2 linked regions of the Homo sapiens genome follow. The protein of the gene in region 2 interacts with the protein of the main gene of each other region in a pairwise test. Each region holds a gene or a part of one and is shown on either strand. Other genes may lie near its edges.

Evidence for each region.
Region 1: the proteins of ATIC (region 2) and MTNR1A interact in a two-hybrid assay, tested with the Homo sapiens proteins (one large-scale study listed by BioGRID and IntAct).

The regions. Positions count from the first base shown.
Region 1 is NC_000004.12:186,545,568-186,549,067, reverse strand, and holds part of MTNR1A (melatonin receptor type 1A), read left to right. Parts: intron 1-3,294; exon of another isoform or gene 3,295-3,424; intron 3,425-3,500.
Region 2 is NC_000002.12:215,322,059-215,325,558, forward strand, and holds part of ATIC (bifunctional purine biosynthesis protein ATIC), read left to right. Parts: intron 1-3,182; coding exon 3,183-3,271; intron 3,272-3,500. UniProt on the Homo sapiens protein: Bifunctional enzyme that catalyzes the last two steps of purine biosynthesis.

The DNA.
Region 1 (3,500 bases), on a different chromosome or scaffold from region 2:
ATGTGGTTTAAATTGCAATTTTTACTTTTAAGATTTTTTGCCAGTTAGTTTTCATTCCATTTTTTCCTTTTATTATTTACTTATCTTTTTTAGCTCCTTTCGTTGTTCCCTCTGAATTTGGAATACTTCCAACTGTTCTCATTTGTGTATATGTCTGTGTAGGTATCATATAGTCTTTTACCATGTACTTTTTTTAAAAGATTGTTTTACATATATAGTGTATATATATATATATATATATATATATATATATATATCTTTATAGATTAAGCATTCCTTATCTATGGAAGATTAGTGCTATTATAGGTCATTTTTTTTGGGATGTGTCCCTCTGAAACACATGGCCTCTGGAACCAGATGCCTGGAGTAAAACCCGGGCTTTGCCATCTCATGCGTGTGACATAGGGCAAGTGACCTAATTTGCTCAGTTTCCTCACTTGTTAATTTGGGACAATACTAATATTGTAAGGACTAAATGGCTTGCTGTATACTTAAAGTGCATTATGAATTAAATATAACATTCCCAGCAGCAGAATAAATTCCTTTTGTTAGTTAGTATTCTTGGTGTAGAGTTCTGATGTGTAAACATATTTTTATTTTTAAGGCAGAATGCAATATTTCACACTTACAGGTCTTTAAATACTCTGTAAGTACATAAAAATAGAGTCAAAGTTTTAACTTTTAAAAAGTTACTTTTATGAGAATATTATTTTATACTTTTGTAGTGTTAACATATTTTCCTGTCATTGATTTAACTTTCATATATAAATAGGGTTCTATTATGATTATACCATTTTTAATAAAACTCTCTTTTGGATTTAGCAATTTAGAGTTATTATTTAGTGCAGTTAATCTGTTTATTTAAGATGGGGTTTTCACTGAGTCCTTCAAGGTTCGGAAAAGTGCCTAAGGGAAAAAAGACTCCTACCCTAAAGAGAGTTCATATAGTTTTTTTTTGATTGCCTGTTAATGTCGCTGAAGGATTATGATTTTGTTTTTGTTAAAGTTTCATCCTAAATTCTCTAAGACGAATAAAGGTACAGTATCAGTAATTCGTCTTCCATTTAAGGGTGAAAGGCTGAACCAGTCAGGCTGTACTGTGGATGTTTTACAAGTTACAAATGCCTCACTAAACCACCCTTCTCAGAAGACAGTCACTGGGCATAGAAAATGAGCAGGATTATTTGCAGGATGTTACACCTTTAACACTGACTGAAATCCAGATGGGAACAAGCAGGAATGTGTATGATTTCTTAAAGACACCTCAGGTGCCTTTGGTCTCTCGTATTGTATATACAGTGTATATGCAATACAGTGTACAATGTAAAGTGTACAGTGTACAATACCGTGTATAATAGAAAGCAGTGCCAAGGTCTACTAGTTTTCTCTACAGCAGCAGTCAACAGTCAAGTTAGAGAACAGGTGGGGAACTAGAGACAGAGTGGGATAGAGAGAGAGAGGAATGAGCCAGGAGGACACGTGGAATCCAGGAGGCAACGGAGCCCTGAGGTGCTCAGATGGAACAGGGTGTTCAGACAACCGCGAGTACCATGAACCAGGTGTGGGACGACGGTGTGTCCCAGGAACAGGGTGTGATGGGTACAGCATGTCCCAGGAACAGGGTGTGAGGAGGACAGTGTGTCCCATGAACAGGGTGTGAGGACAGTGTGTCCCACGAACAGGGTGTGGTGTGGACAGTGTGTCCCACGAACAGGGTGTGAGGAGGACGGTGTGTCCCACGAACAGGGTGTGGTGTGGACGGTGTGTCCCATGAACAGGGTGTGGCGTGGACGGTGTGTCCCATGAACAGGGTGTGGTGTGGACGGTGTGTCCCATGAACAGGGTGTGGTGTGGACGGTGTGTCCCATGAACAGGGTGTGGTGTGGATGGTGTGTCCCAGGAACAGGGTGTGAGGAGGACGGTGTGTCCCAGGAACAGGGTGTGAGGACGGTGTGTCCCAGGAACAGGGTGTGAGGACGGTGTGTCCCACGAACAGGGTGTGGTGTGGACGGTGTGTCCCACGAACAGGGTGTGGTGTGGACGGTGTGTCCCAGGAACAGGGTGTGGTGTGGACGGTGTGTCCCAGGAACAGGGTGTGGTGTGGACGGTGTGTCCCAGGAACAGGGTGTGGTGTGGACGGTGTGTCCCAGGAACAGGGTGTGGTGTGGACGGTGTGTCCCACGAACAGGGTGTGGTGTGGACGGTGTGTCCCACGAACAGGGTGTGGTGTGGACGGTGTGTCCCACGAACAGGGTGTGGTGTGGACGGTGTGTCCCATGAACAGGGTGTGGTGTGGATGGCATGAACAGGGAGCGAGGCGGATGGTGTGTTGTATGAACAGGGTGTGGTGTGGATGGTGTGTTGTATGAACAGGTGTGGTGTGGGTGGCATGAACAGGGTGTGATGTGGGTGGCATGAACAGGGAGCGAGGCGGATGGTGTGTTGTTGTATGAACAGGGTGCAAGGTGAGCAGCGTGTCTCATGAACAGGGTGTGGTGTGGACAGCATATCCCGTTAATGGGGTGTGATGTGGATGGCGTGTCACATGAAGAGGGTATTATAGTTTGGGGAGTTTAAGGAGTTAAAGGCTGGGAGAAGGAGTCACCAAGTATGTCACTGAATACTGCAGGGCTATTGAAGCCTGGGCATTGCGGGGTGATGCACTGTCATGTGTGCTGTGGAGAGCCGTGTGTGGAAGGGGGAGGGGAGCAGTGAGGCCGACGGCAGGAGGGGTGGGGGATGAGAGGAGGCTCATCGGCTATGGAGAGACCCCTGTTCCATTGCAGGGATCAGGGAGGATCCTCCCTAGCCAGGACTGTGTGCCAGGGAGGAACCTTCCGTGAAGCAAGACGTGTGGTTTCCATCACAGGGGAACAGAAATAAGACATGAGTGAATAATCCTGCAAAGGAAGATGGGCCACACGCCCTCAAATCCTCACCACGGCCCTAAGCAGCTTGATTTATTGCATATTAAGAGACTGAGGCTGTGGGAAGCTGTGACTTACCTGAGGTCACGTTAGCAAGTGGCGTGGCTGGGATCTGAATCCGGCTTTTGTTTCCACACTCATGGTGCACACTGCCTCTAGTAATCTGAAAAGACACTTTTCTAAGGTATAGTCTCTTTACATTTAAGAATCTAAAACATGGACTGTGTGCTTTGATGCCTCGAAGTAAAGCCCTTCCCTTTCCCTTGTACTGCCAGAGAATATTCCCTACACACCTGCGGTAGCTCAGCTTTCTCTTATCATACAGGTAACATGTATGCACGTGCAATTTTAAAAAATACAAACCAAGTTTGTAAATAGTTCTTTATTACTGGTCTTCGTGATGCTTAAGCTCAGGCACACTCAGTTCCTTTTAGTCTTCGTGAACAGTACTATTCAGGGGGCCTCTAATCTTGCTTTCCACGTGGTTAAAGTCCAGGCTGAAATGAAAGAAGGAGTGAATATTGACCTGCTGGGAAAAACCAACATCTTAGTGGATATGAGCAGGAAGAGCAA
Region 2 (3,500 bases):
CTTGGCTAATTTTTTTGGATTTTTAATAGAGATAGGGTTTCACTATGTTGGCCAGGTTGGTCTTGAATTCCTGACCTCGGGTTATCTGCCCGCCTTGGCCTCCCAAAGTGCTGGGATTACAGGCTTGAGCCACCATGCCCGGCCCACAAAAGTTTTTAATTTTGATGATGTTGAATTTATTTTTTCTTTTGTTGCTTGTGTTAATGGTGTCATGTCTAAGAAACCATTGCCTAATCCTCAGTGATGAAGATTTTTGTGTATATTTTCTTTCTTTTTTTTTTTTTTTTTGAGATGGAGTTTCGCTCTTGTTGCCCAGGCTGGAGTGCAGTGGCGTGATCTCGGCTCACTGCAACCTTCGCCTCCTGGGTTCAAGCGATTCTCATGCCTCAGCCTCGCAAGTAGCTGTGATTACAGGTGCCCGCCACCACGCCCAGCTAATTTTTTTGTGTTTTTAGTAGAGACGGGGTTTCTCCATGTTGGCCAGGCTGGTCTTGAACTCCTGACCTCAGGTGATCCACCTGCCTCGGTCTCCCAAAGTGCTGGGATTACAAGTGTGAGCCACCGCACCCGGCGTGTGTACATTTCTTTTAAGAGTTATTTTAGTGTTAGCTCTTATACTTAAGTCTTTGGTTCATTTTAAGTTAATTTTCATATACAGACATGAAATAGAAGTCTTATTTTATTTTGTATGTGGCTGTCTAGTTGTCTCAGCATCATTTGTTGAAAAGACTGTTCTTTGCCCAATCGAATGGTCTTGGCACCCTTGGTCCATGTGCCTGCTGTTATGCCAGTACTACACTATTACTATAGGCTGGTAACAAATTTTGAAATCAGCAAGTGTGAGTCCTCCAACTTCATTTTTCTGTTTTTTGTTTGTTTGTTTGTTTTGTTTTGTTTTGTTTTTGAGACGGAGTCTGGCTCTGTTGCCCAGGCTGGAGTGCAGTGGCGCGATCTTGGCTCACTGCAAGCTCTGCCTCCCGGGTTCACGCCCTTCTCCTGCCTCAGCCTCCCGAGTAGCTGGGACTATAGGCGCCCGCTACCATGCGCAGCTAATTTTTTTGTATTTTTAGTAGAGACAGGGTTTCACCGTGTTCGCCAGGATGGTCTCGATCTCCTGACCTCGTGATCCGCCCGCCTCGGCCTCCCAAAGTGCTAGGATTACAGGCGTGAGCCACTGCGCCCGGCCCCAACTTCGTTTTTTTTATTCAAGATGACTTTGACTCTTCAGAGTCCCTTGCATTTCCACATGATTTTTAGAATCAGCTTGTCCATTTCTGCAAAACAACGCAGTTGGAATTTTCATAGGTATTGTGTTGAATCTGTAGATCAATTTGGGAAATGTTACCATCCTAAGAATATTAAATCTTCCAGTCTGTGAACATGGGGTGTCTTTAATTTCTTTAACATTGTCTTGTGAAGTAGAATTGTTTTCTTAATTTTTTTCTCATTCACTGCTAATGTATATTTTAATACAATTGATTTTTATATATTGATCATATATCCTGCGGCTTTGCTGAACTCATTTATTAGTGCTAAAAGGTTATTTTTGTGAATTTGGGATTTTCTGTATACTAGGTGGTATCATCTGCAAATAGATATAACTTCACTGCTTTCTTTCCAGTCCTGATGCCTTTTATTTTCTTTTCTTTGCTAATTGCTCTGGCTAGAACTTCTAGTACAGTGTTCAGTAGAAGTGGTAAGAATGGACATTATTGTTTTGTTTCTTTTTTTTAAGATGGCGTTTTGCTCTTGTTGCCCAAGGCGGAGTGCAGTTGCGTGATCTTGGCTCACTGTGACCTCCGCCTCCCGGGTTTAAGTGATTATCTTGCTTCAGCCTGGGGTTACAGGCATGTGCCACCTTGCCTGGCTAATTTTGTATTTTTAGTAGAGATGGGGTTTCTCCATGTTGGTCAGGCTGGTCTTGAACTTCCAACCTCAGTTGATCCATCCTCCTGAGCCTCCCAAAGTGCTGGGATTGCAGGCGTGCGCCACCTTGCCCGGCTAATTTTTGTATTTTTAGTAGAGATGGGGTTTTACCATATTGGCCACGCTGGTCTCGAACTTCTGACCTCAGGTGATCTGCCTGGCTCAGCCTCCCAAAGTGCTGGGATTATAGGCATGAGCCACTGCGCCTGGCCTCTTGTCTTGTTTCTGAGTTGAGTAGACAAGTATTTTAGTCTTTCACCATCAAGTATGATGTTAGCTGTGGGTTTTTCTTACACTTTGTCATGTTCAGTAAGTTCCCTTCTATTTTTAATTTGCTGAGTGTTTCTATATGAATACCTGTTGAATTGTGTCAGATCCTTTTTGTACATCTATTGAGATGATCAGGTGGTTTTTGCATTTTTCTGGATTCAGTTTGTTAGTGTTTTGTTGAGAGTTTTTGTGTGAAGATACCTAAGAGATACTGGTCTCTAGTTTTCTTGTGACATTTGTCTGGTTTTAGTAGGAGGGCAGTAGACTTAATAAAGATGAGCTGCAAAATGTTTCCCCTCCAATTCTGTTCTTCTGTTTTTGTTTTTGTTTTTTTTAATTAGTTTTCAGCAGTTAGGCTTGTTTGGAGCCTGCCCGTAGAGCTCCTCGCACTACAGGCCTAGGAGTGGAACTGTACTTCACTGATTGTTAATTTTAGATTACTTCTGTATTTTAAATTATTCTTTTGGCATTCCTGTTACCATCATTTTTATGACCTCTCTGAAGGCAAAACAAATGTTTCACCCTTAGAATGCTCTGATATTTTTCATCATTGTGCCAATCCACTGGAAAAAGAATCTAAATTCTAATGTTCTGGATAATAGTGATCACATTCCAAAATGAGAATGTTATCTGTAATCTTGTACTTTATACTTCTATTAAAATGTTCTATAAATTTTTCATGGCTTGGTGGTTCTGGGTAGCTAAGGTTATGCAAGCAGCAGCGTTGCAGTGTGACGTGGAGGGAGTACTGTGTATTCAGATCCGGGGAGCACCTGCTGACTAAATTACCTCTGCTCGACCCCAGCAGGACACCCTGACTTTTTAACACACTCGTTAGAATTCTAAAATGTCAGGCTCACAGTTTATATATTAGTTCTCTATGGCTTTTGTTTACGTTAATAGTACTGACTTGTTTTTTTCCTAGATAGCTGTAAACCACATGAGTGGACTTTTTAATGACAGCCAGATTCGTCTTTGTTTTATAGAGTTGTTGCCTGCAATCTCTATCCCTTTGTAAAGACAGTGGCTTCTCCAGGTGTAACTGTTGAGGAGGCTGTGGAGCAAATTGACATTGGTAAGTCAGAAAAACCATTTTAGAAGACTGAGAGGAGAGGATTATTTAAATTTTAGTGAGATTTCATTTTGAATTTTATTACTGAGGAAATAGAAAGAAAATAGCTACTTCTGGATTGTGTTTTGGGATTACTATAATTCATTTATATTTTCTTTTTTTCATTTATATTTTCTAAGCTTTTTTTGTATGCAGAGATGCATCTGGGTTATTTTCCTGATTTATTTATTTA